Regions from separate parts of the Homo sapiens genome. Here region 1 is linked to region 2. A link means that fine-mapping ties the variant in region 2 to the expression of a gene that starts in the linked region. Tissue or cell type: whole blood. Region 2 holds a variant in brackets; the other region holds the start of a gene. All regions are shown on one strand. Distances are between the middles of the regions.

Region 1 (16,169 bases), 29 kb after region 2:
ATTAGCACTGAAGAAATAAAACATTAACAGAATATTTCGATTTTTTTAAAACACAGTCACTGCTATTCTAGGCAAAGCCTAAATTTTTATTTGACATTTTTTTTGCTACTTTTTATGAATTTGACAGTTGTGCATTTGGAATCTGTTCAAATTCTATTTGTAGCTGAATCATGTGAATGCCAATGCCAACGAGATCAGTACATCTGCTTCTTAGCATCTCTAGAGTAATCTGTATTTGCAGAATGCTTTATATAAATTTGAACATGCTAACATGCTCAATCAGATTTATTTACCACCAGTCTTATGATGTTAGGCCTTCCATAGTGGTTTAATAGATGTTTGGAGCAAATACCAGGTAGGCAGCATGGGCTGCTTTTGATTTGAACACTTCTACTAAAAAATAATAATAGATATGATAAGGAGAAAATGATTACTGTATTTGGTTAAGGGTAGAAAATAACAAGTAGTAATACTTTCCCATGGAATTGACCGACAGGTATAAAAAAGAAAGTGACATACTCTGAAAGTCTTCTTTTTTTTTCTTTCCTAAAGCAGGGACCCAGTAACATTTTAGAATGTCTTTAGGAAATGAGACATTAAAAAAACAAAAACCATAATCATGTACCATTATCACAACTAAGACAATTAACAATAATTCCTTAATATCCTGTAATATGTAGTTGGTATTAAAATTTTCCTGATTGTCTCATTATATCTTTTTATAAGTTGTTTGAATTGGAATCTGATAAAGGTAAAGATCCACGTATTGCACTTGGTTGATATATCTGGTAAGTCTATTTTAAATCTCTAACAGTGCCCTCCCTTTTACTCTCTTGCCTTTGTTTGTTGCACGAAGGTCATTTTTCTCTGGAATTTTCCCCGCCCTCAGTTCAGATAATTGTATTCTTTTGGTGTACTACTTTAGTAACTTAAGGAAGGGGTGGGGGGCTTAGGACACAAAGAATGTCAGGTCCAAGTCTATTTGCTGACTGCAGAAGGAAGTGGGGAGTATAACAATGTGCGATCATGGGGTGGAGTTGGTGGCCATGTCTGGAAGTGAGCTGACATTCAAAGATAAAGTCTTCAATAGAGGTATATCAATCCCAGTTCCAGGAGGATATTACAGGGATTAAGGATTAAAGGATACAATTAAGGGAATGAGACTGGGAGTCTGGTCTCAGCTGTGCATGTAAGAATACCAGACAAAAGTAAGGCTCCCATAGAAATGGACTGGAAACAACTAGGGGAGAATATCAACAGGGCCTAGAACAGAGGAATGAACGTGACAGGAATGTAGTGGACAGACTTTATTGGAATATAGGGTAGGCGCCTTCTTTTTCCACCATATCACTTCTGGGTACCAGTGTTCTGTAGAGGTAAAAGAGGCACTAAATACCTGGGAGATCTGGCAAAAGACATCTAGGTAGTACCTGTGGTTGGGAGGATTGAGTAGATGGTTGCTACCTGATAATGCGGTAAGAATATACGGCACCTTCACTCCCAGAACAGTAACAATGAGTTTTGAAATACTGCTGGTTTATAGGGTGAGGACTCTTGTTAGCTTTACACTCATTTCAGGAAAGAGGTAGAACAACATACAGATACTTGATAATTTTTTTTTGTAAGTAAGTGTAGGACCCAGTACAAACTGATAACTTATTAAATTGAAAGAATTAATATACAACCTGGTTTATGAAAATTTAATTACTGTGACTTCTCAAGAGTTTCATATACTTGTATAAATACAGGCTGGACAAAGCTAACTGGAATAATCTTGTAATTAGCTAGCAATCTAGTAGCTAATAGGAATACTAGTAATGTATACACTTTTACATATATTAAGAGATATAAATAAAAGTCATTTGGACAGTCTTCTATAAAATTATAGATTTGGTTTTATCAAGAAAATATTCTAGGGTGTGGTGGTTCATGCCTGTAATCCCAGTGACTCAGGAGGCTGAGGAGGGAGATCACTTGAACCCAGGAGTTCGAGGCTGTAATGCACGCCACTGCACTTCAGCCTGGGTGACAGAGTGAGACCCTGATTCTAAAACAAAAACAAAGTAGTATATAAGTAAATATACTTTGAATGATCTCGTGGTTGAGGGGAAAAAAGAGAAAGGTTCTGGTTTAAAAAAAGTAAGGTATAATTCATTTGCATTATACTTACAGATTTGGAAATCTAAGGGATTATGTGTTCTAAGCTTCCCATGTTTAAATAGTCATGATAAACTTAAAAAAAAAACACTCTCCTAAAATTGAAATGAAAAACACATTTACAATTGGAAATTTGTAGTCTAAGTAGCTATCAGAAATGGGTTCTTATTATTATTAGAATTTATTTTGAATTTAGGATGTCCTCTGAATTGAGTTAAAACTCAGTAGTCAATCCTTATACCTGCGCACAAATTTCTAGCTATTTCCCAAGATGGTGTTAAAAGTCATAGCATGCACATAATTTTGAATAGGCAACGTGGGTGGAAAGGGTAGGCAGAGCATTTCAATAAGACTTAATTGTCTTTAACCTGTGAATACATAATTATATAATTTGTTATGATGAACTTTCATTTATAGACTTCTATGGAGGGAATCATTAATACTTCATAGTTAAGTGAAAATAGTATATAATTCTGCTTTTTATTACTCTAAATCATGATCTCCTAAATATATGCTACTTTCTTAGTCTAATTATGTAATACATCATCTTCACTGGTACATTATGTAAATTTGAAATAAGAATGTCATTGTGAAGAAAAACACTTAAAATGCTGTTATTTAAAAAGAGAATACCAATAATATATTAATACAATTTGCCTCTATGGATGAGAAAAGAAGAAATGTATCATGTTTTTGCTTTTAAAATAAAAGGTATGTATCAGATGGAGATAATAGTACTAGTTTGTAAAATACTTTGTCTAATGAGGTCTAATAGTAGGCATAAAATGCAAATTTGGTTGGGTCTATTTCTAATGTTAGATATGTGATTTTTTTTTCTTTAAAAAAACTTATTAAAATAATTTTAACAATACTTACTGTTTGTTTGCATTGTCAATTGTATTTAGATTTAGGCAAATATCTACCACTCTTAATGCTCTTCGTTTATTATCAACTCTCAGACCTTCCATTTGAGTTGATTTTCTTCTTCTTCTTCTTTTTTTTTTTTTTGAGACAGGATCTCTCTCTATTACCCAGGCTGGAGTATAATGGTGTGATCATGTCTCACTGCAGCCTTGATCTCCCGGGCTCAAGCAGTCCTCCTACCTCAGCCTCCCGGGTCAGGACCACAGGCACACATTACCATGCCCAGCTAACTTTTAAATTTTTTGTAGAGATAAAATCTCAATATGTTGTCCAGGCTGGTCTCAAACTCCTGTGATCCTCCTGCCTCAGCCTCCCAAAGTGCTGTGATTTACAGGCGTGAGCCACTGTGCCTGGCCTGGGATCATTTTCTTTTTGTCTGAAAAAAGAAATTTCTTTAGACTTTCCTTTAGCGAGACTCTATTAGCGGCAAATTCTGCTTTTGCTTGCCGGAAAATTCCTTTATTTTGGCCTCATTCTTGAAATAATTTTTTCACTGGGTACTGAATTCTAGGCTGACAGTCATTTTCTTTTAGTCCACTGAAGATATTATTCCACTGTCTTCTGTTTTTCACTGGTTCTGATGAAAAGTCATTTACCTGACACTTTGAAGATTAACTATATTTTTTCTTTGTTGCTTTTAAGGTTTTCTTTTTTGTTTTTGGTGTTCTACAGTTTCACTGTGATATATCTCAGCGTGGTTTTATTATTCTTTAACTTGCTTGGGATTTGGGAGGCTTCTTAAGTCTGTGAGTTGGAGTCTTTCATCAGTTCTGGAAAGTTCACAACCATTATCTTGTCAAATACTGCCTCTGGCCCACTGGCTCTTTCCTTTTCATCTGAAGTCATAATTAGATTTTAGAGCTGTTTACAATGTCCTCCATGTCACTTAAAGTCTCTTTTATATTTTTAATTTATGTTTTCTTTTTTTATTGCATTTAACTTCATCTTTATCTTCCATTTCATTGGCTTGTATTTCTGCTGTGTCAAATGAACTACTAAATTTGTCCACTGAGTTTTTATTCTAATCATTTATGTTTTTCAACTCTTTTAGTTCTATTTGCTTTTTTCAAAATCTTCATTCCTACTTTAGTTTTTTGTTCTCTGCACATATTTTCAAACTTGTCTTTTATTCCTTTACTCATATTTAATATTGTTATTTACAGTCTGTGACCCCTTTTTTTTTTTTTTTTGAGGTGGAGTCTCACTGTCGCCCAGGCCGGAGTGCAGTGGCGCGATCTTGGCTCACTGCAACCTTCACCTCCCGGGTTCAAGCGATTCTCCTGCCTCAGCCTTCCCAGTAGCTGGGATTACAGGCGAAATTTTTGTATTTTTAGTAGAGATGGGGGTTTAACCATGTTGGCTAGGCTGGGCTCAAACACCTGACCTCAAGTGATCTGCCTGCCTTGACCTTCCAAAGTGCTGGGATTACAGGCATGAGCCACCACACCTGGCCCAGTCCGTGACTTGTAAATCCAGGATCTGAAGTCTTTTAAAATTTGTTTGTGCTGTCTTAAGTCTGTACTGTTTCTCACGAATGGTGTCTTATTCTGTGCTTGTTATTTTTTTTTAAATGTGAGCTGCTCATTTTCCTTAAAATTTTATTTATAGTCATTCTTTATGGCTTAAGATGAAGGTGGGTTCCTCCAGAGAGGATTGGTATTTGCTTCTGCCAGGTTTCTGAGAGCATTATCAGTCAAAAATTCATAATTACGCCTAGGTACAGTGGCTCATGCCTATAATCCCAGCACTTTGGGAGGCGGAGGTGGGCGGATTACCCGAGGTCAGGAGTTCGAGACCAGCCTAGCCAACATGGTGAAACCCCTGTCTCTACTAAAAATAAAAAAATTAGCTGGGCGTGGTGGCACGTGCCTGTAGTCCCAGCTACTCGGGAGGGTGAGGCAGGAGAATTGCTTGAACCTGGGAGGCGGAGGTTGCAGTGAGCTGAGATCATGCCACTGCACTCCAGCCAGGGCGACAGAGAATCCCTGTCTAAAAAAAAAAAAAAAAAAAAATCTTAATTATTAGCCTGAAGTTTTTGGGGACCACCCAGCTAGTATGAATTCAAGCTACGTTTTTGTGTGAGAATTGGATTGCAGTTCCAAATTCTCAGATACGATTTTGCTTTTCCCCTGTCCACCAGGTGCCAAGGTTTAAGACGGCTAATTTTCTTTGTAGATTCTGGGGGATGGGTGCCTATGCTAGTAAGCAGCAAGTTTATTTCTAGTATATCCTTACATCAAATTAATAATCCTTGGAATTGCAGTTGTTTGTGTGTGTGTGTGTGTGTGTGTGTGTGTGTGTGTGTGTATAATGCAGGTAATGGGTTTTGTGTCTTTCTTACAAGGTCACGAAAACCAATGCTCCTAGTAACTGGGTTTAGCACATGCCCTTGAGATAAAAGTTGGCTGACTCTGCTAAACTCTAGGTTCCTGCCTTCATTTAGTTTTTTAACTTAATAATTTCTTACCCTATTGTCAGTTAATCAATATATTTAATAAGATTTAAAAAATGTTTTTTCCAGGGATTTTGTTTTCAGTGTGACAAGTGTGAACTAGTCCTTGATATTTCTAGAAACAGAATCCTATATTCTCTTTATACTTTACTATCCAAATTTTCCTCAAGGGATATTTAAGACAAATAATACTAAACAGAAATATTTAAAATCAGTATGTAAATATCTTACATGCAAACATTTTGCATGCAAATTTACAGATTTTATAAAGACTGCTTCTTAACATAAATTTTAGGTGGATATTTACCAAATAGCTGGTTGACTAGTTTGTAGATGTCTGTTATTTATTTTATTAAATAGACAAATATTATTGTTCCACAGTACATTTAGCCTTTGACTCATGAGTTTGTTGGCTCAAATTCACTTTAGATGATTTGCAAGATTATGCTACGCAACAAACAATCTCAAAAATATTTGTGATTCACAACAACAAATATTTTTGTTTTACTCTTGTTTCACATCAGTAGCCGTATGTCAGGAGCTGCAAGTCAGTTGCTTCAGTTCTGTACAGGGTGAGAGTTTCAGGTCTGCTCCATCTATTTTCTTATTCTGAGATCTTATCTGGAACATACCTTTCTCATGGCAGGTGGCACAAGAGTAAGAGATTGACCTGAATTTTGCAATCAAATTTAAAGCCTCTGCTTTGATTTAGCATTTAACATCTGCTCACAAAGCACTGGCTAAAGCAAATCACATGACCAACAAGAATACAAGTCTTCAAAGCTGTGTTGAATACCTTATTTATGGCTGAGGTTGCTCTTAATCTAAATTCTCTTCCAGAAAATGAGGATTTTAGTCTAGAATCCTGATTAGTAATTGTCAGCAACATAATTGTCTAATGGGATAAGCCAAATGGAAAAAAGCAAACAACCTCAAGCAACATCTCTGTCATTCTAGGTCAGGGTTGAAATATACTGTGGGAAAGGCTGTCAAGCCTGTCAGTGCTTAAACTAATTTGGAAAGAACTTCCCATTCTTAGAAATGTATAATTAATAAAGCAGTAGGCAAAAGAGATGAATTCTCATTGGAGTTAAAATCGGATCGTTATAATAAAAAAGCTTTATTTCAAAATGTCATTCTTAAAATCATTGTAAGAGTAGCAAACTTGCAGGGCATCTCTGGGAGTTACTGAATATTTTTCAGTTACAGTGCAGGATCACATATTAGTTTCTGTTTATGTTGTCATTACATTGAAAATGCTAGATTGAATTATCATTCCTGGAATCACAATATCAGATTTGAAAGGATCTGAAAAAATGATTTTTCAACTGTAGTGGATTAATATATTTTTGTGTTGCAATCAGTTGTTAAGTATGTCAAAATCATTAGTTATTCATGACAAGTAACTATTATACTAGTGATAATCAAAGTAGAGAAGATTGTGAAAGATATACTTACATTTGTTTTGCAATATCTTCACTTTCAATTACTTGCATTAGGACTTTCTTTTTTTTGAGTGGAGCTGAAAGAAGTTAAACGTAGGCTGTCAGTAATTTGCATAATCCTGAGTATACCGTGTCTGTTTGTTTCCAATGTGATTGCCATCCACCGGGAAAAAAAAAAGGTGGTTTAGTATCATTTCTCAAACAGCATGTGGTCCTACTTGATTGGAACTTGAAATGCAGGGAGTAATTTATCTAGTCATACATCTCATTAGCTAAGTCTGTAACCTAGGCTTCCTTGCTTCCAGTACATTGCTTTTTCCAACAAATGATCAAATTTTCAAAAGCCAATGTATGAAATTGGGGCTGAGGCAGAAGAGAATTAGGCAAGGCAATTTGCCACCTTTTTCTAATCTTTAGTCTCAGTTTCCAAAGTAAAATAAAAGTACCAGAAAAACGGGGTCCAGATGGTGTATTTTGCATATTATCTATGCTCTAGGAACATTCTTTTCCAAATCTATTTGATTGCAACTCACAGTAAGAAATTGTTTAAATCACAACATAGGACATACTCTCACCTTCCACCATATTTGAAACAAAAAGTTTCAGGAAGCAATTTTTGCCCTTACTAGACATTATGCACTCTGGTATTTTATATTGTATTACATCCTAGCCTATTTCATATAAAAATGAAATTGATTTTTGAGTTGCAGGTTGAAAAACATGCCTCTAGAAAACAGGAGACAAGTTAATCTGTTAACAAACTCCAAAGTTACTAGCTTTGCTGAAATAATGTCACAGAATAATAAACTTCCTTCACATTTATTTGTACTACAGTCTCTCAGGCTTCAGAACAGAACCTGGTAGAATCTTTTCCTCTTTGGAACACCAGTTCATGACAATATCTCAGAGATTCTAAGACTCGTTGTTTCCCAGTTCATGACAATATCTCAGAGATTCTAAGACTCGTTGTTTCCCAGTTCATGACAATATCTCAGAGATTCTAAGACTCGTTGTTTCTGACATGTTTACATCTCTGAATTCAAGATGTGTCTCAGGCCGGGCGCGGTGGCTCATGCCTGTAATCCCAGCATTTTGGGAGGTCGAGGCGGGTGAATCATTTGAGGTCACGAGTTCAACACCAGCCTTGCCAAAATGGTGAAACCTCCTCTCTACTAAAAATACAAAAATTAGCTGGGCATGGTGGCGCATGCCTGTAATCTCAGCTCCTTGGGAGGCTAAGGGAGGAGAATCGCTTGAACCGGGAGGCGGAAATTGCAGTGGGCCGAGATTGCGCCTCTGCACTCCAGTCTGGGAGACAGAGTGAGACCCTGTCTCAAAAAAAAAAGGAAAAAGATGTGGCTTAAAGGTGCCTTACATATCAGCGGTATGGCATAGTTTCATTGGCAGCCTTTGTTTTCTTTCTTGGGTAACATAAAACAATGTAAGTCTATGATTTTTTTAGAGCTGCTATGAAATATATTAATAATAATTATATAGGCCAAACTCTATTGCTTATTCATTTCAATGTATCCAGCTTATCAGAATGCCTTCTGATTTCTTGTTAAGAAAATGTAATGAGATGAGAATAGCTTAAGAAAAAAATCCTTAGTTCTGGGCTACAAGGGAAAATGAGTTATGACCCCAATTTAATTATTACAGAAAGCTTTCTCATTTGCCTTCATTGTGATCAGGGTTTGAGTATGATCTTTATTCTACCTCCCTTACTTCTGTATAGTTAGGATTTCATTAGGCGGCTAGAGGGTTCTTCGGATCATGGCTAAAAAAGAAAGCAAAAGGTTAAGTCCTAGAGTTAAGGAATTAGGAAAAAAAAATTAAGGCATTAGAAAAAAAATCAAGAATTAGGCTTTATTTTAAAAAATGGAACAAACTGTCAAATTCCTGCGTACCCGTTTAAACTGTCACCAACCTAACACACTGTAAAACTTAATGACTGTAAAACTGGCAGCAGGATCCTGAACATAACAAGGAACAAAAATAAGTTTGCTAGGCTGTTTTCATCCCAGCATGATTGAAATACACCGTTTCCTCAAAAAAAAAAAAACCTCTAATGAGGAAAGCAGTAAATTAAATGCCACGGTTAATGTGCCACTAGAAATAGGAACAAGTAGTTTAGTTACCGAATGCTTCTTAGGCCATACACTCTACACCACGATGCGTTCTTTTTTCTGTTTCGCTAAAGCTTTCACCAAGCCTAAGGCTGGAGAGGGGTCCTAACTGAGCCCTGACCAGACCAGGGAGCCCTACTGTGCAATCTCCTCAGGTTAGGAAGGGCCCAGTATGACCGGCCCAGAAGGCCTGGCCGATCAACAGGCGCTGGGCCGACGGTGGTGGGCTCGCTTCCTGAGGCTGCCCTTGGGCATGCGGAAGGGGACTGGCTGGCGATAACACCCTGGCGAAGCAAGGTGGACAGTGACTCCCGCCCGGTTCGAGCCCGCCTAGCAGGGGAAGCAACTCCACCACCGCCTCCGCGCACCGTCACGTGACGGGAAGAGGGCGTGGCCGAAGCCCGTGATCCGGGGGGCGGGCGGGGCAGGGGGAGGGCACTAGAATGTGAAGGATCTTCGCGGTTCTGGGTGCCCAGAAAGGCGGCGACGCGGCGGATGACAACATTAGGCCGCGACGCGCTCCTGGCCAGGCGGCGGCTGTAGTGTTAGCTTTGGACGCCGCAGTAGCCGCTGCCGGTAGCAAGCCGACTGAGGGAAGGTGGGGGTCCGCCCGGGCTGGTGGACCTCGGGGCCGAAAGTTCCCGCCCCGCTCGGGGGCTGAGCCGGCAGTGCCTCCGCGGCCGCTGGGCAGCGCCCTTCGTCCAGGCTCGCGCCCCAGCTGCCGCCGACGACAGCGGCCGAGAGAAGTTGGGGTCTGACTAGACGCTTACGGGGCCTCGGACCCCGGCGCCGCGGCGACCTCGGAGGAACCGGCTCCTTGCGTCCCGCCTCCCTGGGAGCTCCGCACGGGTGAGTGTTGCTCCATTCCTGAGGTTGGGGTGCTGGGTTCGCACCCCTCAGGGCGACTGCGCACCCTTATTGCCACGTTCTGAGCTCGGGCTGTCGGGGACTCCTGGCCACCCCCGCCGAGGAGTTCTTTGGCTCCTTTGTTCCCTTTTGGAGTAGGGGGATTGGAAAGGCTGGCAGGGTGGAGTGTTTAGGGGCCCACAGTAGGTGCATCTGCAGCCTTACAAAAGCCGCGGCAGGGGAACGGGGGTGGGAGGCTGTTGGAGCATTTCGACCGCCCCGGGTGTCTGTCCCTCCTGAAGTTTGATAGGTTGATGGCATGGGCCTCGTTGGGAGCCCCCGCGCCCAGGAGAGCTGGCGCTTTGTCGCTCGGTGCGGTTAAGGCGAGGCTCCTTCTTTCCTGTGACAGCCCCAGAGAAGGCTGTGCCGCGCACCGCAGACCGCACCCGCCTTTGCAGAGCCAAGCGACACGGTGTTGTTCCTCTAAGCCTCAGTTCTCCCGGCCTTCTTGTAACGTAGGAGGAAAGCCAAGCCTTTGCTGTGCTTTTAAATTTAATGTTTGTTTCTAAGCCCTCTCTCAAGAGTGGAATCAGGTTCCAAGGAGCTTCACAGGCAGCATGCTTTAGGTTCATTGAACCACCCACTCAAGACTGGCTGAGGCGAAGCAACAGTATATGCAGATTTTCCATTCACAAAAGTCATTTAACACTCTTCTTTATGAGACACATCTGCGTTGCAGAACGTAACCTAATTTCATTTTATTTAAATGCTTTCTGAAATAATAGGTAACTTGGACAACGTAAACAGATGGGTAAACTTTAACTGATAATGTAAGTATATATGCATTAAATAAAAAATTTAATGATGTTTTTGCCTTTCTGCTGCTAGAAGACTTAAATGACGTCTGAGTAGTAATACAGTGTCTCCTGCATGGCAGTTAAGTTTTTCCCAAAATTAGTGCTGCTTTTGAAATAATCCTTTAAAACAGTTTTTGCCTCCCTTCGTATCTAGAGAGAGCAAGAATTGTGGAGAATCGTGGGTGAATTGATTGTTAAATTTTGCTAATTTCCTAGAGTTTCATCTAAACTTGATTTTGCTGAGAGGCTATGATCAGTTTCTATGCTTGCTAGAACCTGTTTTGCAGTGAAATTATTAAGATCATGCTAGTTTTATAAAATAGGTTGGAATAGGAAAAGTAAGGCCATGCAATTTAAAACTGTTCTCTATAAAAGTACAACTAATTTCAAATGTTTGTTACTTTTATTTTTTTTTAATATTAACCGTGTATGGAGTGACTATAATATACCTGCTCAAAGGGCTGAGAAAGGAAATAGATGAAACTTAAGCTACCTTTTGGGTCTTTAATTATGGACATCAAGTTATTGCGGTCACATTCCATGTCAACCGTTTGAACAGCAATACCGTGTACACAGGTGCTTAGAAATGCCTGTTTAATTAAAAATGGCCATGGTTTATTTCTCTTTGATTGAATCATAATAGTTATTGAATCTCTGATCTGTGGAAAGATGCTACTGTATTTTCCTTAGAATGTTACTGCATTTTAAAGACAGTCAAATATGTTTTTTATAACACATTCAGGGTACTTATACATTTGTCAATATTCAGTTCCTTGGTTCATTTAAAAATTGGAAGCCTTAGAAAACACTTTGGGGATAAATTTACAATTGTGTATAATGAATTTATGTTTTAGTTTGCTTTAAGAAAAATGATGAAATTATGAATTTGTAAAATATGCATTACAAAAGGATTTTTTTTTTTTTTTTTTTTAAGACTGTCTCACTCTGTATCCCAGGCTGGAGTGCAGTGGTGCAACTTGGCTCACTGCAGCTTCTGCCACCTGGGTTCAAGAGATTCTTATGCTTCAGCCTCCTGAGTAGCTGGGATTACAGGTGCGTGCCACCATGCCAGGCTAATTTTTGTATTTTTATTAGAGATGGGGTTTCACCATGTTGGCCAGGCTGGTCTCCAACTCCTGGCCTCAAGATCCGCCCGCCTCAGCCTCCCAAAGTGCTGGGATTACAGTCATGAGCCACTGTGTCTGGCGGATCTTTTGTTTAAAAGTATGAATTGCAGAATTTTAACCAGTGTTAGTACATTTCAACTTGGCTTTGGTTTGTAAATAATCCTTCAAAAGTAGATTACTTGAATTAAGGCATTAAAGACAAAGAATTGATACAGTACATAGATCTAGTTTTCTAATATTAATTTGGAAAACTTTTATCCTAATATTATCCTAATAACAATGCCTGAAATGTCATGTTGTAATGTTTGTATTATATTGAAAGTTAAAAACATTTATAGCAATGTTCTTGGAGCATCAGGCAATTCAAAGAGGACATAGGTCCTGCCTTAATCTTACAAATAATGACCTGCAAATAAGACAGAAACACAACTTGAATAAAAAAGCCTTTGAGAGGCCAGGCCCGGTGGCTCACGCCTGTAATGCTAGCACTTTGGGAGGCTGAGGTGGGCAGATCATGAGGTCAGAAGTTCAAGACCCGCCTGGCCAACATGGTGAAACCCCGTCTCTACTAAAAATACAAAAAAATTAGCTGGGCGTGGCAGTGTGTGCCTGTAATCCCAGCTACTTGGGAGGCTGAGGCAGGAGAATCGCATGAACCCAGGAGACAGAGATTGCAACGAGCCAAGATCATGCCATTGCACTCCAGCCTGGGCGATAGAGCAAGACTCAGTCTCAAAAAACACCAAAAAAACAAAAAGCCTCTGAGAAATATACAATTTTTAGTGAAGGTGGCTGGGTACAAGGAGATTAGTAGAAGTGCTTGACTGGAGCAGTTGTGGCCAAAGTATAGCTTCCTTGTGATGAGACACAGGAAGAGATGTCTAGACTCATGTTGTGTGCATATTTCATGGCAGTATGTGGGAAACCCCTGAGAGATTTTAGATCTTTCTTCCCACCTTGGTCCCCATCCCTCACATATCCTCACAAAGTCATAAAATTCTCATGTGGAAGGCGTGATAGAAGGAATTTTTCTTCCTGAAAAGTGTTATCAAGCTTGCAAGGGAGAGAGCTATTTTCGGAGACCTTATAGGGAAGAAATCCTAGTCCTAGAGCATCATATTCTTATACCCTGTTATTTTTACCTTTGTCGAAGATCCAGATAATGTAAATTCTCCATGATAGCAAGGACCTTGTCTGTTTTGCTCACCATTGAATCTCCAAATGTTCAATAGTTAATGAATGAAAAAAGTCTACTTCCAGATATATGACTGGAGAACAAAAGGAGTATCTGATAATGTAGTCCAAACTAAATGCAAGCAGCGAAATGATAAAGGAAGGATGTTAGCTTGGGAGAAGGGGAACAGGTCATTTAATCTGGGAAACTTTCTTGGAGGAGGTGATTCTTGAGTTAGGTTTTGGTGTGGGCTGTGTGTCTGAAGATAAGCAGTGTCTAAGGGGGTAGACAACGTGCAGCAAAGCATTTAAGTCAGACTGAATAAATTATGTCAGATAAAGCACAGTAAGTCTTTTTTTGTAACATTATGAAGAATTTTTATTCTCCCATCTCTATTTTCACCTCTCCCTAAATAAAAAGATTAACTTGCTTTGCAACAGCAGAGATTGACAGTACTTGAGTTTTGGAAGTACGATAAGGGTCAGAAAATTTGAATTGGTGTTCTGACTGAATCTTATACAAGCGTCGTTTCCATCGGCCAATCACTTGGTCTTAGTTTTCTCATTTGTAAAATCAGGATAATAATCCATGATCGTTGGGAGAACAAAGTTATATAATGCATGTGAAAGTGCATACCTCAATATGAATGTGCCTACCTCAATGTGTCACACATAGGAGGACTTCAGCAAATACAAAATTATTAAAACGTTTGTCTGCAGATCTTTAAAACATATTTTGATTCGTTTATCATGAACTCTAATATTTGCTTGACTCATCTAGATGACTCATGGCATTATGTTTAAATTGATCAGAATCAAAATTCTAGATAATTTTCTTTCAGTCAGTTTAATGTTTTCTGGTAGAAATGAGGCCTAATTGTATTACTGCTTAATGTTACAGACCACAAGGAGTGCTAGAAGCCTCAAATTTTTGAAGCTCAAAGTAAGGGATATGTGTAGCTGAAAATCTGAGCCTTTAAGCTTTTTTTCTCTACGTAATTTGTTTTTGAAGAAATTGTCTTTGCCTGTAATGTCATTTATCTATTCATTGTTGTGATGAAATAAGGGGTTTTCTGGTTGTTAAGAAAAAATTTACCAAAAATATTTTCTGTTTTTAGTGATGTGACTATAAGCCATGAAGATCTCTACCATCTGTGTTTTATTATAAAATTCAGTATTTCTTGAGCAAACAAACAGACATCTGCATTATTTCTTATCTAAGCTTTTTGTGCCAGTAGCTGTTCATTTATGAATCTCAGAATTTCATTATACTTTGTGAACTCTTTGTAGTGTTTTTGATCCATGGAGCAGTCTGTCCTTTGTATAATATTTGGAAGAGAATTTTATTATAAAAAGACTAAGAAGAGTCTTGAGCCTTTTTATTATACAAAGACTAAGAAGAGTCATCAAATGATAAGCCAGTTACCTACTAATTTCCATATTCAAAAAGGACTGAAAAAAAGAGGAAATGGTTTCAGAGCTTGACTTTTTTCAAATAAAAAGGAGAAGCTTTTTGATTTAGAGTTTTTGAAAACTTGATAGATTCAGAGGGAAATTGTTATAGGTCATATTAATAGCTAATGTGCGTCAACTGCTATATACCAGGTACTGTACTACTCTAGAAGTACTTGACATGTCATCACATTTGATCCTGACAACCACCCCGCAATCAGGCTATTTTCTTTTTTTTAAACCTGAGCAACTGACAGATTAAATAAGTGGTGGAGCCAGGATTTGAACTAAACCTGAGGCACAGAGAAGTTAAGTAGTAGGTGGTAGAGCCTACTAAAAGGATTTAAACTTGAGGTTTAACCTGACCTTTGACTTTGGAGCCTATCCTTTTAACCATCATATTATATACTGCCTTGTATAATTTATTTGCAGTTGCTCCTCTTGATACGTCTTGACCTTGTGATCTTCCTGAGTCTGTTTTAGTTGTGTCATTTACAAAATGCACTTTACTTTATAAGAAGATGGAATATAGCCTTGATTTTTTTTCTCTCATTTTACTTGTATTTGACTGACATCCTATTTTTAAATCTTAAAAATACTTAGAGTAAAGCAAATATTTATTTTATTGTTCATCCAGTTGCCATTTTCTCACTGGGGAATTTCAGAGAATTTCGGAGTAACTGGAAATTAAAGAACATAATAGATAACAGTATTTAAAGCTAAGTTGTTATAATTAAAAAATAGTTTTAAAGAATAAGGCTGATTCACAGAATTGGTATGCATTTTTTTTTAGTGTTTTTTTTTTTTTTTTTTTGAGATAGAGTCTCACTGTGTCACCTAGGCTGGAGTGCAGTAGTGTGATCTTGGCTCACTGCAACCTCTGCCTCCCGGTTTCAAGTGATTCTCATGCCTGAGCCTCCTGAGTAGCTGGGATTACGGGTGCATGCCACCATGCCCAGCTAATTTTTTGTATTTTTAGTAGAGATGGGGTTTCACCATATTGGCCAGGCTGTTCTCGAACTCCTGACGTAAAGTGATCCACCTGCCTCGTCCTCCCAAAGTGTTGAGATTACAGGCGTGAGCTACCTCCTCTGGCCTTTTTTTTTTTTCTTCTGATACAGGGTCTTGAGCTGTCACCTAGGCTGGAGTGCAGTGGCACTCACTACCATGGCTCACTGCAGCCTCGACCTCCCAGGCTCAAGTGATCCTCCTGTCTCTGCCTCCCAAGTAGCTGGGACTACAGGCGAATACCATCACACCTGGCTAATTTTTAAGTTTTTTTTTTTTTTTTTAGAAACAGAGTCTCACTATGTTGCCCAGCTTGGTCTTGAACCCCTAGCCTCAAATGATTCTCCCACCTTGGTCTCCCAAAGTGCTGGGATTATAGATGTGAGCTGCCATGCCAGGCCTATTTAGTGATATTTGAGGGACACAGATCTGTACAGTTGAAATCTGTCCTGTTGAGATGACCACCAGTAAGGTAATTTTTGCTTTTTGGCTGCCAAATGCCTACATATTAGCAGGAATAGTTTGTCAGATTACATAATTTTTTACAAGGAAGGCTGGGGCCCATGTGGAAATTATGGAATCTATGTTGGTATATTTTGATG
Region 2 (16,169 bases):
CTGCAGAATTATCCAGCCATTCTCAGCTTCAACAAGTAAAGGTTTATGTACCTCTGTAATGGGAATGATAACAGTTTATTCATCAGGGTTTTCTTTTTACTATATAGAGTAAATACAATGAGATGTGGAAAAACATTTTGTAAAATACAAAAGGGGAGAAAGACAGGAACTTATATATATTAAGAATTCACCAAGTGCCAGGCAGTGCAATGTAAAGCCTGTAGCACAGATGTATCTTTCCTCTTGGTGAATCCCTGCTCACTGCACTGTGTTGGAGCATCAGCCAACTGCAACATTAATCTCCAGACTCTTCATCCTCTGTGTTTCCTTTAGGAAGAGTTCCACACTTTGATCTTCAGACTTGCTATTAAGGGCATTCTCTGCTGTTTGTCTAAATTTAAAGTGGTTTCAAAGGACCTTATGTAGCTTTTTGTTATTTTTTAATGACTTTAGTATAGTTATAATTCAAAACTGTTTTATTTGCTCTTTTTAAGGGGTGACTTTTTAGTTAAATAATTTTATTACTTAATATCTCTCTCAGGAAAGTCGTTGCCCCAAGAAGAGCCAGTGATCACAAGCCCTTCCTAAGACAGATCTCCTAAGCAGGCACTAAATGAATCCCTGGATACAATCATAGAGTAAAGACCAGTAGTCTGTGCTAACAGGCACCATGTCCTTTCATTCTATGAAAAGGAAAAGGGAAGGAGGCAAATAGGTACTTTATCAGTATAGAGTCAAAAGAGAAGGGCCATTCAGAACCTGGGTTCAAATGTCATTACATTGCTTCCGGTTTGACCCTGGGAAAGCTACTTAACCTCTTTGCATCTTGATTTCTCTTATAAAAATCCACATACTAATACCAAAGCTGATGTAAGGATTAGTTGATGTAAAATACGTAAAATTTAGCATAATAACTGACATACACACTCACTCAATAAGTATATATCATTTTATAAGAGCAATCTTTGTGATGTATGAACCACAGAAGAGCTATATATCCCTGCTACATTTGTCCAGAGAAAAACTCCACAGGAAATTAAAATAACAACTGCACTTTAATATATTTATATTGCAAAGAGACATATCAAGCCAGTGTAACTAAACCACAATCTTCTAATATCTGTTAGGTTCCAGTTCTTGTAAATGGTATAAAATTTACAAATAGGCCCCCGCTGAGTATAGCCACTTATATGCCTAACAGGTAGAGAACTGAACTCATCATCTTGCCTCACACCAACTGTTCCTTTTTCTGATTATCTGATTTCTATTAATAGTTCACCATTCTCCTAGTAATTCATGCTTGAAACTGTAATTATTTTTGACAAAAACTTCTTCACCACTGCCTACTGATCTTACTTGCACTCAAAATCTAACTCCATCCATCTCCATTTCTGTGCCTACCCACCTAGTTCAGGCCTCCAACCTGGTTTTCTTGCTTCAAGTTTATTTTTTCCCACCAAATTCTTCCTCCATATAAATCTTAAGCAGACTCTGATATTGAGCCTGTTTCACACCATTACTTCTGCTTCTGCTCAAATATCTCCAGTAGCTCCCTATTGCTTACCAAAATAAACTTCAAGCATTCAACATACTTTATGAGATGACGCTGCAATGCCTTTCTGGCTTTGTCTTTAATTACTCACCGTGTGCATTCTCCTTGAGCTTCCCTAAGCAATCTCCCTACTATTGTTGTTGTTTTTACCTCCATAAATCTGGTATTATTTATTATATTTTGAAAAACTTAAACTCATTTAACCTGTCCAAATAATGTCACCCTTTAAGGCCAAAAGCAAATGCTATCTCTCTGGGAAATGACATAGTAGGTCTGCAGAAAATGTTTTTTTTAAAATAAATAAATAATGTACGAATAAAAGAATAATGAATGAAATTAAGTTCTATCCTGAAGGGCCTGTTTGGTAACAAAAGATCAAGAATTAAAATAGAATCATTAAAAGATTTGTGTGAGATTTGATCAAGTAGATACAAAAAGAGGCAAAGAATCTTTACTTTGATGACAAGAATAAATGGTTAGACATGGGAAACGGAACTAGAACCGAGAATGGAATATGATGGTCATGATATCAGCAAGCAGAAAAGGCCAATGAGAGAGGCGTCAAAGCCAGGATTGGTGAAAACAGCACAGACTCTTCTCAGAGGGGCAAATTGTGTGAAAAGTGGATTGCTACCACATAGGACTCAGATTTTTCTCTTGACCATGGTTCATAAAATGTGGTCTGCAGACCCCAGGGAATTTCCCAGATCCTTTCAAGTATATACAAGATCAAAACTATTTTTACAATAATACCAAGACATTACTTGGCTTTCTCAGTGAGTTGACATTTGCACTATGAAACAAAGGCAATGGTGGGTAAAATTGTTGGTGCTTTAACAGAAATTAAGGCAGTGGTACCAAAAGTGTACTAGTAGACATTGAATTATTTACTGCTATATCCCAGAAAAGCAAGACAGTTTCATTTAATATTATTCTTGATAAAATAGCATGATTAATTTTATTAAATCTCAACCCTTGATTATGTATGTTTTAAAATTCTGTGAGACAAAATGCATAATGTATTCCTGTTGCACACCAAAGTTCTAAGGTTATCTCAAAGAAAATGATTTTTGTGCTTGAGTCGTGAGTTAAGCCACTATTTTACATGGAAAATTATCTTTACTTGAAAGAATGACAGACAGATAAACTATAGTTATTCAGACTTAGGTATGTGTCAGAACTTTTCTCAAAAATAAGTGATCCCGTCACTTCAAGGAAAACAACTCACAGCGTTTGTTGCCAATGATAACATTTGAGCTTTCAAACAAAATTTAGAATTTTTTAAAACTCATATCTACCTCTATGAATTTGGCAGCTTCTTGATTCTTCAAAAATTTTCTGATGAGATCAGTGGTGACAATAACACATGTGATTTTTTTGGGGTATTTCAACATGAAATCTGTCAGCACTTGGAAGATATGCATAACTCAATGAAGCACTATTTTCCAAATGACTAAATGCATGATGTTGCAAAATAGCGCATGGAATCTTAATCACAGAAAGTTCATCTCAATCTGTTGGTGCTAACTCCAAATGGACTGCTGCTACACAACCACCCTACTTAAGGGTATTCTTGAAGGGAAATTCTCTCAACTGCAGATCTGTAAGCAGTGTACCTGATCAACTACTTTCTATAAAGGAAGAAAAGGCCTGATGTATAGATGTACATGGACCTTTGAATGATGGCAATTGGCTTGGTTGGTTAGTCAGACAGGCCTAGAGGAGAAAGACTGGAAGATGGGAAATAAAAATATCCAAGGAATAAATGTATGGGTAGACCACTGGAGTAGGCTCAAAGTGTGCAGAAATTTGTGTGCTACCTCAATGCCTATCAGAGAGCCTATACTGCAGAGAAAGCACTAAACAACCAAGTAGACAGGACTTGTCTAGTAGAAATCATTCAGTCTCTCTTCTCAGCAATATCTGTGTTTACACAATGGGCCTATGATAATTACATGGCCATGGTGGCAGGGATAAAGGCTGTGAATGATCCAATAGCATGAACTCCCTCTCTCCTGGGCCACTGCTGCTTGTCCAGTCTATTAGCAGCAAAGATAAATGCTAAGTCTTCATTATGGCACCATCCCTTAAGAAGGCTAGTCAACCATTCAGTGGGAAATTGATTATATTGGACTCTTTCAACCCTGGAGGGGATAGCAAATTGTACTTATCAGAATTGATACCTATTATGGGTATGCATTTTTCTTCACTGTTGTAGGTACCTTTGTCAGCACCACCCACCGTACAAGAACTTACTGAATGCCTGATTTACTGGCATTGAATTCTACCTATTTTTTTATATCAAAGAGCCCATTTTATGATAAAATAGGTGTAATAATGGGGCATAAACATGAAATTGGCCATCCTAATGGAACAATAAAATAATCTAATAAAGACTTAGCCAAGGAACCCATGCAGGACTAACACTTCAAAAGGATAGGGTATTGTTCTCAAGAATAAGATAGGTGCATTAAATGTATAGCTGATGGCTGGGCACAGTGGCTCACGCCTGTAATTCTAGCACTTTGGGAGGCCAAGGCGGGCAGATCACCTGAGGTCAGGAGTTTGAGACCAGCCTGGCCAACATGGTGAAACCTTTTCTCTACTAAAAATACAAAAATTAGCTGGGTGCGGTGGCGTGTGCTTGTAATCCCAGCTACCCAGGAGGCTGAGGCAGGAGAATCGCTGGAACCCGGGAGGTGTAGGCTGCAGTGAGCTGAGATTGCACCACTGCACTCCGGCCTAAGTGACAGAGTGAGACTCCATCTCAAAAAAAAAAAAAAAAAAAAAAAAAGTATAGCTGATTTCTAGTGGTGTGTTTCCAATAGCCAGAATATACAGGTCCAGAAACCAAAGGGTGGTTGTAGGAATGGCTCTCACCAACACTCCCATTGACCCCTTTGCAGAATTTGGGCTTCCTATCTGTGCATTCTTAGGCTTTTCAGGATTAGAAGCACTTGTTTGGTATGAAGGGGACTTCTATGAGGGCACACATGAAGTCTCCATTGAACTGGAAACTATAACTATCACATGATCATTTTAGATCACTTGTGTCAGTGGACCATCAATGAAAACACTTACTATCTTGGTGGTGATAACTGACCTTGATTACCCATATGAAATAGAGTTGCTGCTACCCAATGGAGACAGGAAGTCCGATGCATGGAACACATAGGATTCACTGAGTTATTTCTTCGTGCTCCATGTCTGGTGATAAGTATAAATGGGTAATTGTAATAATTAAGACTCACTGAAGAGCAAGAATTAGAGTTCAGACCCTTCAGAGATGATGATCTGGTTGCCCCCACCCAGTCAAGCAACACAGACTCCCTGAAATGGTAGCCAGGATGAGACAAACTAGAATAATCTTTTTCACATCCTTTCAGCCTACCTTTTATACCAACTATTGCTATGGCAACCAGTTTTGTGCAACTGTACCACATATTTATCATTTCAAAACCTGTGCTGCTCTGATGATATGGCATGGATGCCAATGAGAACCCACTCTGCGCTTAGGCATGTACAACCTGGAAGAGTAAAGAAGTTAACACTCTCTGGGACAATCTTTGACTGCACTTGTAATCTATTGCTGGATAACAAGTTACCAAATCTAGCAGCCTAAAACAATAACATGTATTATATCCCAGTTTCTGTGGTCAAGAGTACAGACACAGCTTATTTGGATTTTCTGCTTCCAGGTCTCTCCAGGCTAGAGTCAATGCATCAGGTGGGCTGTGTTCTCATTGGGAAGCTCATCTGCTCCCAAGCTCATATGGTTTGCCGAACGAATTTATTTCATTGAGGATATAGGACTGAAAGCTTCAGTGTGCTGGTTGGCTGTCAGCTGGAGGATGCCATTAGCTCCTAGAGTCCATTCAAGTTGCCTGCCATGTGGTCTACTCCATAGGCAGCAACATAGCAGTTTGCTTCTTCATGGCCAGCAGAAGAGTCTACTAGCAATATGAAGTCTTACATAACATAATGTTATCATAGGAATGCCATTCTGTCACCTTTGCCATATTCTATAAGTTAGATGCTTCACAGATTCCTCCCATATTCATGGGATGTAATTAACAGGGGCATTGATATCAGAAAGTGGGGGTCATTGGAGAATCAGCCTAGGTTCTGTCTGCCAGTCTTTCCTCAGGCCCTCCCATATGAAATATATGGTTTCTCCCCTTCCAAGGTTCCTGTATTAGTCCGTTTTCACACTGCTGATAAAGACATACCTGAGACTGGGAAGAAAAAGAGGTTTAATTGGACTTACATGGCTGGGGAGGCCTCAGAATCATGCTGAGAGGTGAAAGGTACTTCTTACATGGCGGCGGCAAGAGAAAATGAAGAAGATGCAGAAGTGGAAACCCCTGATAAAACCCCTGATAAAACCATCAGATATCGTGAGACTTATTTGCTACCATGAGAACAGTATGGGGGAACCTCCCCCATAATTCAAATTATCTCCCACCAGGGCCCCTCCCACAACCCATGGGAATTGTGGGAGTACAATTCAAGATGAGATTTGGGTGGGGACACAGAGACAAACCATATCAGTTCCCAAGAGTTTCATTCATTATAGCATCAGCTCAAATTCTAAAATTTCATCATGTGAATCAAGTCCAGGTGCAGATGAGCCTCCTACGTATAACCTGTTAAGTAAAGCTCCTGGACACAATTATTCTCTAACTATGGACCTCTGAAACCAAGGAAATGAGTTATCTGCCTCCAACACACCCAACATACAATGGTGGGACAGACACAGGATAATAGCTATAGACATTCCAGTTTAAAAATAGGGGAAATGGGTAGTAAAAAGGAGTCACTAGTCTATAGCAGTTTTGAAATACAACTGGATTTATTGGAAGTTCCTTAATTAAGTTTCTAGGCTTGGGAATGATTCTTCATGGCTCTTGGCTCTGCTTTCTGGGTTCTTGGTTCCACCATCTGAGTCATTCTTCCTTTTTCATGGAAGGTAGCATGTGTTTGCAGATGAGTAGTTTTATCAGCCTGCTTTCTGCCAGTAAAATTTTGGAGGTCTGACAGCCTCTTTTCATTTTCTAGTCTTTCTGTCTGTCTTATTCCAAGTTGGCACTGTTTCTGCAGAAATAATTTTCTCAAGAATGTTGTGGTTCTTTCTGTATTTCAGTGGCATTCACTCTTATCAGACAAAGGCCACATCTACAGATTGTTTCAAAAATAATTCCATCTCCTTTAAGCTTCCTAGAGGCTCAATAGTGTGATTGAGAGGATCTGAGGCATACCCTTAGATCTTTTCAAATCTAAGGGCCGTATCTTGAAATACCCCTGAGTACTCTGACCTTTGATCTTTTGGGGGCTTTAAAAAAGATTATAGAGTAACTTCAAGTGCATTTTCTCTAGAGTAGGCTTTTCTGACAGTGCCCAAAAGCCATCTCCAACTGTTAATATTTTTTGCCATCTGGGGAAGATGAGGATTTTTTAAATTATCAAGTCCTGATTCCTTTTTGCTTAATAGTTCTTCTCTCAATTTGTCTCTTTTCTTGAATTTTCCTGTAAGTAGCAAGAAGAAACCAGTTGTCCCCTTCAACACTTTGCTTGGAAATCTCCTTAACTATATAACCAAATTCATCCATTTACAAGTTCTGCTTTCAACGTAATTGCAAGAAATAATTTCACTAAGCTTTACGCCAGTACATAACAAGGATCTCCCTTCTTCCAGTTTCCTATAGCATGTTCCTTACTTCCTTCTGAGTCCTCAACAGCAGTCTTCAATATCCACATTTCTACTGAGAGTTTGTTCGCAGTGATTTGGGATTTGTCTATCATACTTTTCAAGCATTCTTCTAGTCTCTGTCCACTGATCAGTTTCAAAGCCACAGACATATTTTTACATATTTATTACAGTAGCATTCTACCTCTAGGCACCAAAATCTCTATTAGTTTTCCAATTCGATGTAACAAATTAACACAAGTTGAACACATTAAAATAACACACATTTACTATCTCTCTTTCTGTAGGTCAGGAGTCCAGATACACCTTAGTTGGGTTTTCTACTTTGGGGTCTCTCCAGGCTACAGTGAAGGTGTTGGTTGGACCATGTTCCCATCTGAAAGCCTGAAGAAAGAAGAATCTTCTTCCAAACTCTCTCAAGTTGTTGGGAGAATTCATTTCCTTACAGTCACAGGACTGAGAGCTTCAAGATTTTGTTTTGTTTTGTTTCTGTTGGCTCTCAGCTTCTACAAGCCACCTCTGAGTTCTTTGCCACATGGTCCTCTCCGATAGGCAGTTCATAACATGACAACTTGTTTCTTCAAGACCAGCAGGAAAGTGAGAGAGTGAGTCGGCTATCAAGACAGATTCTTACATAATATAACATAATCATGGGAGTGATATCCCATCACATTTGTCATATATTGTAATGCATGTATTACATTACATCATGGGAGTAACATCCTATCACCTTTGCCTTATTCTTCTGGCTGGAAGCAGTTCACAAGTTCTACCCAGTCTTACGGTGAGGGGCATAAAGAAGGTCATTAATACCAGAAGGCAGAGATCATTGGGGGTTACCTTAGGATATGTCTGCCACATTGGGGGAAGGCAGACAATTCTAGGTAGCTATTCAAAGATCCAGAGAAATGAGCCTGAGTTACCTACAACAATGTTCAGATTGATTAATGTATTCTTGAGTTAGCTTTCCTTCCTTTCATGTCTTAATTTTCCTAGCCCCTCACTCCTATTCACTGGGATCTCTTCCCAAAATCAACTATCCGCACAGAAGTTATTGTCTCAGACTCCGATTTCAGGGAAGAAGCCAGGCTAAGATAGCAGAAGAGAATAAACTTGTATAAATGGTATGCTACAAGTTAGGAGGGATGGTAGGCAGGAGGTTCTCCTCCTCAGAAATTAATTACCCCCTACCCATATATTTCTCTACACTATAATGAGGCAGTGCTAAAAGTTCATGGAAGAAAGCATGCTAAAGGTGCTTTCTCTATGCAAATCTCAAGATACAGCATCTTAACTCTCTCTTTCATAAAATTAGAATTGGCCCAAGATACTAAATTGGGCTAGGCTGGCAAGTGGGGTTCAAGTAGTTTCCATTGTAGGGAGAGAAATTTAATAAGTGTAAACCTGGCAGAGCTCAAAAAAGAGCAACAGAAGTACTTGAATACAAGGGATAAAACTATTAAAGAACATTTTTCACAAATAAGCCTTGTTTCTTCAATTATCTCTATTTCCACCATGCCTGCCATCTCAAGTGATGACTATCACTCTGCTCTGGCCAAGTTATATGTCAAATCACAAAGGTGAAATGAGATGACTGTCAGGTCATATGTTTGAGGGGGAGGAATGGAATTACAAAGAAAGGGATACCATGACACTTGGAGAAAGAGTTATGAGGAAAGAAAACCAATGGGGTGCTTAAGAAAAGGGCTTGAGTCAGAGTCAGCTGGATACCATGTCTGACACAGTGAACTATGATAATCCTCACAAAACATTTCTAAAATGATTGCCTTAGGATTGCACTGGCTGCATGGCCAGGGTTCTCATTTCTCATTTCCTTTTCTTAGAATTAAGGTGATGCTCTTTGAAATGTCTAAAGATAGATGACTACCATTGGTAGTCAACCCTGAGGTTTTTTATGTACAGGCCCAGCACTGAGCTAAGTGTTTTGTATGCAATTGCACAACATCTTTATGAGGATAGATGCTATTATTATCTGTTTCTCTAAGCATGGG[G/A]AAACTGTTAACCTCAGGGTGTTGAGTAACTTGCCCAACATCATACAGCTAGTAAATAACAGAGCCAAGACCCAAGACCTAGGCCCGCATTTGCTGGCTTAAAAGTTTAAGCTTTTTGCTTTTTTTTTTTTTTTCCAGTGGTGCTATCTAAGCTTACTGCAACCTCTGTCTCCCAGGTTCAAGCAATTATTCTGCCTCAGCCTCCCAAGTAGTTGAGATTGCAGGCATGCACCCCCATGCCTGGCTAATTTTTAAATTTTTAGTAGAGATGGGGTCTCACCATGTTGGCCAGGCTGGTCTCGAACTCCTGAACTCAGGTGATCCATCTGCCTCAGTCTCCCAAAGTGCTGGGATTACAGGTGTGAGCCACCGTGCCTGGCCCCAAGGTTAAGCTTTTAACCACTGCATCACACTGCACCTCAGGTTTCAAGATAGGGAAACTCAATTTTTAAAAATATTTATAAAGCATTTACATTTTTTCCATATCTCATTTTATAAAGTGTCTTAGCTAGTAAGCTTAAAAATTATTTTCTTCGGCCAGGCATGGTGGCTCATGCCTGTAATCGCAGCACTTTGGGAGGCCGAGGCTAGCAGATCACCTGAGGTCAGGAGTTTGAGACCAGCCTGGCCAACATGATGAAACCCCATCTCTACTAAAAATACAAAATTAGCCAGGCATGTTGGCACGTGCCTGTAATCCCAGCTACTTGGGAGGCTGAGGCAGGAGAGTCACTTGAATCTGGGAGGCAGAGGTTGCAGTGAGCTGAGATCACGCCATTGCACTCCAGCCTGGACAAAAAGAGCGAAACTCTGTTTCAAAACAAAAATAAATAAATAAAATAAAATAATTTTCTTATCAAGAAAATGCAAATTAATCTGCAGTGACAGAGAGTGGATCAGTGGTAACTTGAGGATGGGAAAGTCCCAAGAGTGGCAGGAAGAAGAAATTACAAAATAGCATGAAGAAACTTTCGGGAATGAAAATCAAAATTTGTAAACATATTTATCACTGCCAAAAGTTAAAGAGTCTTGCTCAAGATTAGCCTGAGAGTTAGTAGCAGAGACAGGATAAAAATATAGTTTTTAAGCTTCTTGAACAAGTGTTTTTTTCCTCTCAATTTGGTAAATTATTTCCATATGGTTTTAAAAAGGATATGAAGAGACATAAAATATGACATGAGTATTATAGAAAGAAAATTGTGTTTAGGAATTTTGGGCAGCACTATTCACAATAGCAAAGACATGGAATCAGTCTAAATGCCCATCAATGGTAGACTGAATAAAGAAAATGTGGTACATAGACACCATGGAATACTATGCAGCCATAAAAAAGAATGAGATCATGTCTTTTGTGGGAACATGGATTGAGCTGGAGGCCATTAGCCTTACCAAACTAACACAGGAACAGAAAACCAAATACTGCATGTTCTCACTTATAAGTGAGAGCTAAATGATGAGAACTCATGGACACAAACAGGGGAAAAACAGACACTGGGGCCTACTTGAGGGTGGAGGGTGAGAGAAGAGAGAGGAGCAGAAAAAATAACTTCTGGGTACTAGGCTTAGTACCAGGGTAACGAAATAATCTGTAAAACAAACCCCCATGACATGAGTTTACCTATATAACAAACGTGCACATGTACTCCTCAACCTAAAACAAAAGTTAAAGAAGAAAGGGAGCCTGTGAAGCCCCTCAGTCACTCCTCCTACATCTCATCCTGTTCTCCCACTGATCTAGCTTAAAGTCTTCCTGCTGGAACATTTCACCCTATACCAGGTGGTGGGGAAAAAAATTTTTTTTATTAACTTACGTATCTCAATTGAGCATTGGAAGTCTATTGTGAATTCATCTGATGAAAAAGTTGAATGCATCTCTTCAGAAGTTTATCATTATCATCTGCAATCTACTGAGAACTTTTTAAAAAATGAATCCTGCAATTGTATGGCCAGCAGGGGGCAACTAAATACTTCCCAAAACAGCATCTTGTATAAGAGAACAAGTTAAAATTGGAGACTGTTAGCATTCTTAGCTGTGTAGGAGAGCTGACTTCCTTCTAAAATGATAATTAACACCTAGACACATTCTCACAATACTGAATTTGTGAAGATAATTGGAACAGTTTCCTAAGTGGACAGATTATAAAACCACATTCTGGGGCCTGTATGTGGCAGATTTGTTTTGGCTGTTTTTTCAGTCCACAAGGTTCCTTGCAAAAATTTATGTATTTTATGATGAATAGCTTTGTAAAACTTCTTGTATTATAGAAAATATAATGAATCTTGACTTATTTCTGTAGGTTATTTTAGAATTCTGCTATTTTTACTTAACATTCAAAGATAAAAGTAAATAGGGATTGCAGAGGATCTTGTTCTTAAAGTATAATAAAGAATCATTTCTTAGCCCTGTTTTATAGAACTAATTTTTAAGCTTGTTATATTAGTTAGGGTTGTCCAGAGAAACCAAACCAACAGAATGTGTATACATATAGATATTATAGATATAGATGTTTATTTTAAGGAATTGGCACACATGATTGTGGGGACTCAGTTTCTGCTTGAGTCCAAAGGCAACCTGCTGGCAGAATTCCTTCCTTCTCTGGGGAGGTCAGTCTTTGATTTATGAAGGCCTTCAACCGATTGATGAGGCCCGTCCATATTATGGAAAGTAATCTGCTTTACTTAAAATCCACTGGTTAAAATGTTAATCTCATCCAAAAACACCTTCACCAAAACATCCAGAATAACGTTTAACCAAATATCTGGGTACCACAGCCCAGCCAAGTTGTCAAATAAAATAACCATCACAGTTGCCTATTTCTTTACATCACAGTCTCAAAGTCGTAGGAGATCTATATGGTGAAATAGCTCAACCCTCCTCCAGATGCAGCTGCAATGCCTGGCAAAGAGAAAGCATTTAGCAAATATATGCTGATTTGAATTGAACTGAATGTATATGAATTGAATTAAATATCCCTAGTGGTGGCTAGGTTCTGCCAGGCTTCCAGTGCGGTGCTGGGAGGTAATGGAAGATAGAAGTTAGGCACAGGCTCTGGAGTCAGATAGGTCCATATGCTGAGGCTCCCCTACTTACCTTATATGTACCTTTGGATGAATAACTTAATTTTTCTAAGCCTACATTTCTTCACCTATATAAAAACAACAGTCATAATAGCTATTTATGCTACATATTGCTTTGTTAATCAATATTTACTTCTCTTTCCTTTCTGGCCACTCAGTGGATTGACTGTATTCCTCAGCGACCCTACAACTGAATGGAGCCATGTGACTTGGTCTGGCCAGTGAAAACTGTAGATTTTACGTGTGTCACCTTCAGGATGTGGCAGTAAAAGGTCGATATGAAATTTTTTTCTTTCCCGACTGTGGCAACCATGGAAAAAGATTCATCTTAAGATGGCAGCACCACAAGGTTGAAGCTGCCTGGATTATCACGTTGTTGCATGGAAGACAGTTGCCTGGAGAGTTGCCTGCAGCCAGAGCTAACTTTTTGTTAAACATTTGCTTTTTCTCCCAACTGCAGCACAACCTAGACTATTCTCATGTATTGTCTCACAGAGTTGTTTTGAGGATTCAATCAGATATTGTTTCGCAGGAAACTGCTCATTTGACAAGCCATAAGCACTCAAATGTTATAATTATGATATTTCTTTGCCTTGATCATTATAGCAATTCAAAACTCAAACAATAAAATTAGAGTACCAGGTAACTTTTGTTTAAAGTATTAGTATTCTAACTCTTTAAACTTCTCCTCTGAACACTGCCTTGCACACAGTAGGCATTCATAAATAAACAAAAAAAATTTTTTTTTTTTGAGACAGGGTCTCACTCTGTCACCCAGGCTTTAACATGGTGCTACAACCAAGGCTCACTTTAGCCTTGACCTCCTGGGCTCAAGCAATCCTCCTGTGTCGGACTCCCAAGATACTGGGATTACAGACATAAGCTGCCACACTTGGCTGCTGGGATATTTTATTCCCTTATTGTTAGACTGGCAAGATTTAAGTTTATTTCTTTTGCTAGACCTAGGTTCTCATAAAACAACTACTTTTGGTTAGAGTTACCTATTAAAAAATGTATTACTATCCTGTCATTAATGGGGCTTAGGCAGTGATAGCTGCTCACACATCTTAACTCTTCCCTGAATTCAGACCCAATTGATAGGAAGCCAAAAAGATAAAATACCAACTTCTCGGCTTGGCATGGTGGCTCATGACTATAAGCCCAGCACTTCAGAAGGCCGAGGTGGGAGAGTTGCTTGAGTCCAGGAGTTCAAGATCAGCCTAGCATAGGGAGACTCCATCTCTACAAAATGTTTGAAAAATTAGCCAGGCATGTGGCATATGTCTGTAGTCCCAGCTACTTGGGAGACTGAGGTAGGAGGATCGCTTGAGCCAAGGAGGTAGAGGCTGCAGTGAGCAGTGATATTATGCCATTGCACTCCAGCCTGGGTGACAGAGTGAGACTTCATTTCAAAAAAGCTTCCTAAGATAAAGCTGATTGGATGTATTATAATATACAACCATGACCAGGTTTTTCAATATTTCTTTTTTTTTTTTTTAGACGGAGTCTCACTCTGTCACCCAGGCTGGAGTGCAGTGGCGTGATCTCAGCTCACTGCAACCTCTGCCTCCTGGGTTCAAGCAATTCTCCTGCCTCAGCCTCCCGAGTAGCTGGGATTACAGGCACCTGCCACCATGCCCAGCTAATTTTTGTATTTTTGGTAGAGACGGGGTTTCACCATGTTGGCCAAGCTGGTCAAATACTTCCTAAGTCCAAATGGGTGATGACTCGCCACAGGAGAATTTGAGTCTGCACGATGGATAGACTTGTGTAGAATCACTGTTTCTGCTTGGTGAGATCAACAGTAGAAAGAATGAGAGTTAGGCCTCAGGCCTGTTCTAGAAGACAAGCATAGGCCCTAATCCGTGTGTTTTTAGTTTATGACATATATTGAGGAACTGAGCAGAATATAATTTCTTGTGGGTGGGAAGATTTGAAAAAGATGGCAAGAAATGGCTTGGGTTTTATGTTTTTCTCCCCAAATCACCAATTAAATACAAAACTCCTTCCACTTGGGGAAAGTGGCAGAAAGAAAGATGAAATTTCCTCTTGACTCTATAGTTCTGAAAGAAACATATTTCTATTTTAAGAGCCAGGTAGGAAAACTGTGAGGCAGAGAAGATGGTTCCTTTTAATATAAACAAATAAATTATTGTTCTTGTGGTCTGAATGTTTATGTTCCCCCAAAATTCAAATGTTGAACTCCTCACCTCCAAAATGATGGTATTGGGAGGCGGGGCATTTGGGATATTATTAGATTATAGGGTTATTTCCCTCATTAATAAGATTACTGCCATTATAAAATGGGCCTGAGAGAGAACCCTCAGCCCTTCCACCGTGTGAGGTTAGAATGAGAAGACAGCTGTCTATGAGGAAGTAGACCCTTACCAGACACTGCATCTGCCAGTATCGTATCTTAAACTTCTTAGCCTCTAGAGCTTTGAAAAATAAATCTCTGTTTTTTATAAGCCACTCACACTATGGTATTTTGTTATAGCAGCATGAATGGACTAAGATACTTGTGATATTCTTGTAAGTTTTTATGTTCTGAAGTTACCTTATAATTATATAAGAAATAGGGTTTTTATGATATACTAAAAATCAATTAATTAGTACAAAAATTAAAAGTATCAAGAAGAAGTCACATATGCTAACATTTTTAGTGATAATTTTTCCTAACTTCCTCCCTACTTTTTGCTGGTAATAAAGTTTTCCTAATTTTTACTCATAATAAACTAATCCACAGGAAACATTCAATAGCAAATCATGTATAAATACTTAGCATATACTATGTGCAAAATACTTTGCCAAATGAGGGGATACAGACATTTAAAAAAATCAGTCCTGATCTTACAGTCTAGGGAAAGAAACAGATTTCAAAAAATATATTTACAATATGGTGTGTTAAGCCATTCACAGTCCAATGAATGGACTATGACAAATTACCTGCTTAATATCCATTTTCTGCTTCTTCCTTAGTAACAGAAATCCAATTCAAGTTTGGATGACAACGTAAACTTAAAAATATCCTGTCTCTCTTGCAGCTAAGAGTGACCTTACAGATAGCACATTTCTTTTTAAAGAAGTAGAAATCTCCCAGGGATTTTGGAATAAGTTGTGTCAATTCAAGTTTCTTGATTTAGGCACTATCCTCCCTTTTATATTTAAAACATGTTTTGTGGCAAGAACACTTAACATGAGATCTACTCTCCTTTTTTTGAGACAGAGTCTCACTCTGTCACCCAGGCTGGAGTGCAGTGGCACGATCTCGGATCACTGCAACCTCTGCCTCCCAGGTTCAAGCAATTTTCCTGCCTCAGCCTCCCACATAGCTGGGACTACAAGCGCCTGCCACCACGCCCAGCTAATTATTGTGTTTTTAGTAGAGACGGGGTTTCACCATGTTGGTCAGCATGGTCTTGAACTCCTGACCTCGTGATCCACTAGCCTCGGCCTCCCAAAGTGCTGGGATTACAGGCATGAGCCACCGCGCCTGGCAGATTTACTCTTTTAACAAATTTTTTTTTTTTTTTTTTAGACGGAGTCTCGCTCTGTCACCCAGGCTGGAGTGCAGTGGCACAATCTCAGCTCACTGCAACCTCTGCCTCCCAGGTTCAAGAGATTCTCCTGCCTCAGCCTCCCAAGTAGCTGGGACTACAGGCACCTGGCATTTTTTTTGTATTTTTTAGTAGAGACGGGGTTTCACTGTGTTAGCCAGGATGGTCTCGATCTCCTAACCTCGTGATCTGCCCGCCTCAGCCTCCCAAAGTGCTGGGATTACAGGCGTGAGCCACTACACCTGGACTCTCTTAACAAATTT

Evidence for each region.
Region 1: it holds the start of OSBPL8, and the variant in region 2 is fine-mapped to the expression of OSBPL8 in whole blood (TOPMed, PIP above 0.99).

What each region holds. Positions count from the first base shown.
Region 1 is chr12:76,553,181-76,569,349 of GRCh38, reverse strand. It overlaps OSBPL8 (oxysterol binding protein like 8), which reads left to right and starts at 9,579. Exons shown (of 24, transcript NM_020841.5): 1 at 9,579-9,953. LOC105369850 (a long non-coding RNA gene) reads right to left here and starts at 9,448. Exons shown (of 4, transcript NR_188081.1): 1 at 9,117-9,448; 2 at 6,992-7,055. RefSeq lists a silencer at 9,749-9,938 and an enhancer at 10,349-10,658.
Region 2 is chr12:76,582,049-76,598,217 of GRCh38, reverse strand. All of the region lies in intron 3 of LOC105369850 (a long non-coding RNA gene), which reads right to left. Among named protein-coding and RNA genes, the nearest start is that of OSBPL8, 30 kb to the right of the region's middle. RefSeq lists silencers at 8,863-9,063, 14,013-14,213. The variant G/A (reference allele first, on the strand shown) is at 9,272.